Linked DNA regions of Homo sapiens. The protein of the gene in region 2 interacts with the protein of the main gene of each other region in a pairwise test. Each region holds a gene or a part of one and is shown on either strand. Other genes may lie near its edges. The genes, in order: SRGAP2B and WASHC3.

The links.
Region 1: the proteins of WASHC3 (region 2) and SRGAP2B interact in a two-hybrid assay, tested with the Homo sapiens proteins (one large-scale study listed by BioGRID).

What each region holds. Positions count from the first base shown.
Region 1 is NC_000001.11:144,903,320-144,907,135, reverse strand, and holds part of SRGAP2B (SLIT-ROBO Rho GTPase-activating protein 2B), read left to right. Parts: intron 1-1,061; coding exon 1,062-1,277; intron 1,278-1,916; coding exon 1,917-2,045; intron 2,046-3,816. UniProt on the Homo sapiens protein: May regulate cell migration and differentiation through interaction with and inhibition of SRGAP2. In contrast to SRGAP2C, it is not able to induce long-lasting changes in synaptic density throughout adulthood.
Region 2 is NC_000012.12:102,051,682-102,055,497, forward strand, and holds part of WASHC3 (WASH complex subunit 3), read right to left. Parts: intron 1-3,816. UniProt on the Homo sapiens protein: Acts as a component of the WASH core complex that functions as a nucleation-promoting factor (NPF) at the surface of endosomes, where it recruits and activates the Arp2/3 complex to induce actin polymerization, playing a key role in the fission of tubules that serve as transport intermediates during endosome sorting.

The DNA.
Region 1 (3,816 bases), on a different chromosome or scaffold from region 2:
CACACACACCCAACTTCTACTCTCTAATTCTCCCTCTCAAAGAAATCTTATGGCATCACACTTTCAGCACTCGTGAACTCCCTGTGTGGAAACAGAAAGTTCCCACAGAGTAGAGCAGGCACTAGGTGGCTGGAAGTAGTATGTTTAGTAGGATTGGAAACAAGCTTGAGTTCTAGGCTTCCTGGCTTCCCTGTTAAGAGAAAGGATTGGACTCCTAGATGGTTGCTTTGATGGAAAATCATCCTTCACCTTTTATACTACTTCCCTCCTGTGGCAATTCCAGTTATACTTGATATGGATTTTATTCCTTCCCAGACTCTTACCTGAATTGTTTTGAAGGCTTACAGTCTTCATAGGGTTGTTGTCTAGATTGTGGAATTGTCCTAAGGATGAAATGAGAAAATGTGTTGTGTGGTACTTGGCATAAAGCCAGGAATATACTAAGTGCTCAGTAAATGATAACTGGCATTGCAATTGCTGCTGCTGCTTTAGTTGCTGTGAGAGGGTGTTTGATCTGGATAAAGCAGAACAGACAGATCCCCAGAATGCCAGGCCAGTAAAAGGAGCTTTTGGAAGCTTTTCCTCTTCCCTATTTTATATCTGAAAGGTAACAGAAAGCATAGGCTACTCCATAGGCTGCACTGCCCTCTTCGGGGTTCCTGACCAGCCCAGAAAGGCTTTGCCCTTGGGGCCTGAGAGTGGTGGTGTTGTTTCCCATCTACTCAGTATTATGAGGTGACTAAGTGATAGAAATCACCTGGCCAATATTAAAGAGAAGTGATTACAAATGATAATGAATAGAAATAAATAATACATGATGGATAGACATTAAGTTATTTCAATAAGAGGAAATGTTGGCTCAGTTCACATATTGCTTTCCTGTGCTTTGGAGTGGTCTTTAATCTGTGTTTGCTGAACCAAACACTTCTGGATTTTTCCCTTAGGGGTGTGAGGATATTGCTTCATGGGGGAGAGCTCCAGCTGAGTCTGTTAGTCTGTAAAGCAGAGAAATGACACCCTTGGCTTGACCTCTGGGGGTGGGGGTGGGCGATGTCTTGCAGGTCATGAAGACATATCACATGTACAATGCCGACAGCATCAGTGCTCAGAGCAAACTAAAGGAGGCGGAGAAGCAGGAGGAGAAGCAAATTGGTAAATCGGTAAAGCAGGAGGACCGGCAGACCCCACGCTCCCCTGACTCCACGGCCAACGTTCGCATTGAGGAGAAACATGTCCGGAGGAGCTCAGTGAAGAAGATTGAGAAGATGAAGGAGAAGGTATGTAGGCTCCCACAGCTGTAGATGCTGGGAAGCAACATTCGGTAAGGCATGGCTGATAGGAATTTCCCAACAGTCACTGGGAAGAGCAGACGAGGAAGCTCTGGGTTCTTTTAGTGCCTAATGACTGAAAATGAGGCCTTGCTCTGTGCCCTGGCAGGAATACTAGGTATTGGAAGAACTGGGCACGTGGGTTCCAAGTTTCTAGCCTCTAGCAGAAAACCAAGAAACAGCAGTCACCTTTCCCAATCCATTTTCCAAATAGAGCTCAATATCCTATTGCTTTGGAGGGGTTGGGGGTGACTGTAAACCCAGGATTTGGTTTCAGGTATCAGGTGTTCAGGGGCAAGAGTAGTGGTACCTCCTTCAGAGTGGCATTGCAAGAATGAAGAATGATATTTGAAGATAGAATCAAAGTGGGGCACACATCTTAAGTAGGGAGCCTCATTAACCTTTCCTGAATTGATCTACATTGTGCCCTTGAATCTCATTAAACAGAATTAGAACCCAATTTAAGGCAGATGCGCATAGGGAGTAGCAACACAATTGTAGTTCTTGAATACACTGTACTTTTATCTTTTAGAGAACAAGCCCCCCTTAAAAAAAAAAGGTAAAAGTGAACTTCTGTTTCCTTTTCAGCGCCAAGCCAAGTACACGGAGAATAAGCTGAAGGCCATCAAAGCCCGGAATGAGTACTTGCTGGCTTTGGAGGCAACCAATGCATCTGTCTTCAAGTACTACATCCATGACCTATCTGACCTTATTGATGTAAGTGCTTAAAGCCAAGGGCCTGAGGGCACCTCTTTTCTGGTTTCAGAATACTCGTCAGACATTCCCTGATACTATTGTTCAGGAATCTGGTGCATTTTGAGAACAATTAGGAAGATAGCAGCCATGATCCAACAGGGTGCTTGCCAAGCACCAAGTGAAACACTTCACACTTATTCAATCCTAACTGGAATTCTGGGAGGAAGGCATTATTATCTATATTTTTACAGATTAACAGAGAGTTTAGATGACTTAGTCAGAGTCAGTTAACAAATGACAGAGGCAAAATTTGCACCTAGGCCTGATGACTCAACCCAGGCTCATAACCACTACACTCGTCTATCTGCCAGGAAATACTTTCTTCCTTTTTTTTTTTTTTTTTTTTTTTTTTTGAGATAGAGTCTTGCTTTGTCCCCCAGGCTGGAGTGCAGTGGTGCAATCTTGGCTCACTGCAACCTCCATCTCCCAGGTTCAAGCAATTGTCCTACCTCAGCCTCCCCAGTAACTGGGACTACAGGCATGCATCACCATGCCCAGCTAATTTTTGTATTTTTAGTAGAGATGGGGTTTCACCATGTTAGTGAAGCTGATCTGGAACTCCTCACCTCAGGTGACCTGACCTCAGGTGATCCACCTGCCTCGACTTCCCAAAGTGCTAGGATTACAGGTGTGAGCCACTGCACCCGACCTAGGAAATACTTTATTACATCAGCTTCTCTTGCACAGAAGTGAGTGGCAAGAACTTAACTAAAGAGTTACAATGCCATCCCTTATATTTGTATAGCATTTAAGGTTTCTCGGTGTTAACTCATTTGACTCTCACATCACCATTATGGGTAAGCATTGCTGTCTCCAGTTGCTAGATAAGGAAGCTCAAGGTCCAGAGGACTACGAGACTCACTTGTCCAAGGTTATGCGCAAATTAGGGTCCTGTCAGGAAGGTATCCAGCTCCCCCTGACATCTGGCCCATTTTTAAAAATATGTGATGCAAAGGGGATTGAGGAAAGCGGTTAATAGGCACATGTGTTTTGCAAGGGGCAAGCGCAGGGATAAGCTTTTTGTTTTTTGCCTGTGAGTTATTCTTGGCCTTGTTTTTCCTGCTGCTTCCCCTTACAGTTGGGTCTTACAAGCCCTCTCACCTACAGACTCCAATCTGGCCCAGGTCCTGAGCCACACCTAAGTGAAGCTATGTAATTACACCCTTTCTCACCTCTCCTTCCAGTCATCAAAGTGAGGCATCTGGAGCCAGCCAATTTAGCATCCCAGTCTCTGGGGCTTCAAGTGTATCTCATCTTGGAGGCCTGCCATTTGTTTCAGGGTCTTGTTGGCAGCAGTTGGGCTTTGCAAAACTCTGGCCCGACCACTCTTGCTTTCCTGCCTTGGTTTCTCCACAAGCAAACCTGCCACACCTCACAACATCATATGGGATTTGGGTCCGAGTCTTGCTGTTATATCACCACCTGGGTCATCTAGGCTTGTCACTGAATTGTTCTGGAACCCAGCTTTGTTTCTCACCCACTCCCAAGCTCCTCTAGCTAACTGAAGAACTGGACTAATTCCCTGGTATTAAAATCTGGCCTCACGTAAGAGTTGCTTGGGGAACTTCTCTAAAATACAGATTCCTGTCTCCCTTTAGCCGAGGATTTTTGATTCAGTAGATTTCAGCCACTTAATGCCCTAGGTGTCATTGTCTCACTGGGTTAGTAGAGCCTTGCTCCCTGTTCTGGTACCTCTTTGTTCTCTCTGCTTGTTGATGACAATCTGAACACT
Region 2 (3,816 bases):
ATGTGCAGCTAATGCAGCTACAACTACTGGGGGCATGCAAAGATATGTTGAATGAATGAATGACTAAGCAAATGATTTAAACTTCTCTACATCTTAGTTTCTGTATCTGTATGAGTGGGATAACTAAACCTCTCTCAAAGGACTGACTGCGATAATTAAATACACATAAAGCACTTAGTATGATGCCCAGCACAGAGGAAGTACACAATAAATATTAGTTGTTATCTCATTGAGCAGTCTCCAGCTGACATGAATATCCAAATTGCTAAAATATATATTGTAGACAATCAGTTACAGTCAACCCTAGATTATCATACATAAAGGAGAAAAAGGTGGGACAACAGCAAGATGGGGGAATAGGACTTTCCAGCACTGATCCTCCCACAGAAACATCCATTTGAAAAACTATTCACGCACGAAAATACATTCTCAAGAGCTAAGGAGACCAGGTGAGAAATTACAGCACTGGGTTTAGCACAAAAGTAAGAAAAAACACACTGAAGAGGGTAAGAAGGACAGTTTTACAGAACTCATGTCACCCTTCCCCCAACTCCAGGCAGCACAGCATGGAGAGAGATACCCTCCAGGTGGGCGAAGGAGAGGCAGTGAGCACAGGACTTTGCCTTGGACCACAACACCAGGCCCACCCCAGCAGAACTCAGTGCTGAGCAAGCCCCCTCAGCCCAGACTCCAGGCTGACACCTGCAGGCGAAGCCTTTAGGCCCATCCTGGCACTAGGCTGGATCACCCAGTCCTGAGTTCTAGGCTTGTCCCACTGGGACCGTAGGTTCCAGACCAGCTCAAGGCTCAGGACAGTCCCAGCACCAGGCAAGACTGCATAGATTGTCTCCAGGTCTGCTCTAGGGACAGGCCAGCCCCAGTGGCCCTAGGTTCTGGACCAATCCCAGCACAGGGCTAGCCTCCATGGGCCCAAGGTTCAGGCCCACCCCAGCACCAGGTCAGCTCCTGCAGATATAGGTTCCAGGCCTGACCAGTGCCAAGTCAGCTCCTGTGGCCCCAGTCTGGCTCCTGCAGCCCATACCCTAGTGGAAGTAGGGTTTAGGCCCATCCCAGTAGGCCCTTCTGTTGGGCTGACACCCATAAACACAGGCTCCAGGACCATCCCTGTGGACTCAAGTTCCAGGCTAGCCACTATTGCCGTAGGACCCAGGCCAGCCCCATGTAGCCCAAGTTACCAGGCCAGCACCTATAATCTCAGGCTCCAGTCTGGCCCCTGTGACCCCAGGCTGCACACTTGCCCCAGCACCAAGCTGGCCCCAGACAAATCCCTGTGGTGAGTCAGGGTCTAGGTATGTTCCAGCAGACCCAGAGTCTGGGACCACCCCAGTAGATTGCATTGCCAGATTGGCCCCCATGGACGGAGGCTGCAGGACCACTCCTGCAGACTCAGGCTCCAGGCTAGTCACAGTACAACCAGGACCCAGGCCCACCCCCACATACTCTGGCTCCAGGTCCACCCCAGGGGTTCCAAGCACCAGGCCCACCTTGGAACCTGGCCAGACACTGCAGACTCAGGCTCAAGGCTCACCCCAGTGCCAGACCAACCCCTGCAGACTTAGGCTTCAAGTTGGAACCCTAAGGATCCAGGCCCACCCCTATAGAGCTAATCAGCAGGTCCACCCCAGTGGATCAGGCTCCAGGAACAACCCTACGAACCTAGGCACCAGGCCAGCCTACCCAAGGACTCCAGCAGCAAGCCTGCCATGCACCACAACAGATGGCCTGTCTAGAACCTCTGGATGAGCTTACTGGTGAAGGGCTTTCCCAGACAAAGCCAGTCTGCAAAGACTGGAGTAAGTCCTTACTTCTTCAAACACACACATACCAACACATGGCCACAAAGACCAAGAATAATCAGAGAAACACGTCACTACTAAAGAAACAAATCACCAGTAACTGACCCTTCTTCACAACGAATCCAAAATTATTGTTTTAGGGAAACTCAGTGGACTTCAGGAAAATTCAGAGAAACAATTCAATGAAATCAAGAAAATAATAAATGACCAAAATGAGAAATGTAACAGAAAGATTGGAATTATTATTTAAAAAATCAAACAGAAATTTTAGAGCTGAAAAAAAAATGTATACAGTCAAATTCAGAATATTCTAATACTGTCATGGTGATTAAATCACTTATATCTTTAGTATGAAAGTTAACAGACAAAACTATTAAAAATAATAATAGCTACAATAACTTGTTAAGGGATATGCAGTATAAAAAGATATACGTTGCAAAATCAAAAGCAAAATGTGGAGAGGTGGAGTAAAAGTGCAGAGGTTTTTTATGTTATCAATTATGTTATTATCAGTTTAAAATAGCCTGTTATAACATGTTTTATGTCAGCCTCATGGGAACAACAAAGCAAAAACCTAATAGTAAATACACAAAAGATGAAAAGTAAGGAATCAAAGTATATCACTAGAGACAATCATCTAATCACAAAAGACAGCAAGAGTGGAAGAAAGGAACAAAAGATCTATAAAGCAACTAGAAAACAATGAACAAAATCGCAGCAGTAAGTCCTTATCTATCAATAATTACCCTGAATGTAAATGGACTAAATTCTCTGATCAAAAGACACAGATTGACTGAATAGATACAAAAATAAGACCCAACTACCTGCTGTGTACAAGAGACTCACTTCACCTTTAAAAAATGGACACACATAGATTGAAGTGAAAGAATGGAAAAGAGCTCAGCACAGTGGCTCACATTTGTAATCCCAGCACTTTGGGATGCCAAGGCGGGAGGATCCCCTGAACTCAGGAGTTTGAGACTAGCCTGGGCAACATGGTGAGACGCCGTCTCTACAAACACCATGGACATATCATCCAGGCAGAAAATCAATAATGAAACACTGGCCCTAACAGACATATGTAGAAAATTCAATAAAACAGCAACAGAATACACATTCTTCTCAAGGGCACACAAAACATTCTCCAGGTTATATGATATGCCACAAAACAAATTTTAATACATTTAAGGAGACTGAAATCGTATCAAGTATCTTTTCTGACCATATTGGTTTGAAACCAGAAATCAATAATAGAAGGAATCTTGAAAAAAATCATAAATAACTGGAAATTAAATAACATGCTCCTAAACAACCAATAGGTCAAGTAAATTAAAAACGAAATTAAAAGTATTTTGAGACAAATGAAAATGGACATACAACACATCAATACTTATGGGAGGTGGCAAAAGCAGTTTTAAGAGGAAAGGAAGCTTCGGCAGTAAAGACCTATAACAAAAAAGATGAAAGATCCAAAGTGTAACATCCTAGTGTTACAACTGAAGGAATAGAAGAACAAATAAAACCCAAAGTTAGTAGAAGGAAAAAAATAATAATGATCGGAACAGAAAAAAATGAAAGAGACTAGAAAAACAATAGAAAAGATCAATGAAACTAAGAGCTGGATTTTTGAAAAGAAAAACAAAATCCACAAACTTTTAGCTAGATTAAGAAAAGGAGAAGATTCAAATAATATCAGAAACGAAAGAGATGTTACAACTGATACCACAGAAATACAAAGAATTGGCTTTTTCAGCCACAGAGCTCAATGCAGCTCAGTGACGTTATAAATGCTAATGAACTTAAGGTCTGATGTGTGTTTGAAAGAATCAGCGAAGCTTTTCTTTTTTCTTTTGTTTTGTTTTTTTGAGATGGAGTCTTGCTCTGTCACCCAGGCTGGAGTGCAATGGCGCAATCTTGGCTCACTGCAACCTCCACCTCCCAGGTTCAAGTGATTCTCCTGCCTCAGCCTCCCAAGTAGGTGGGAATACAGGTGTGCACC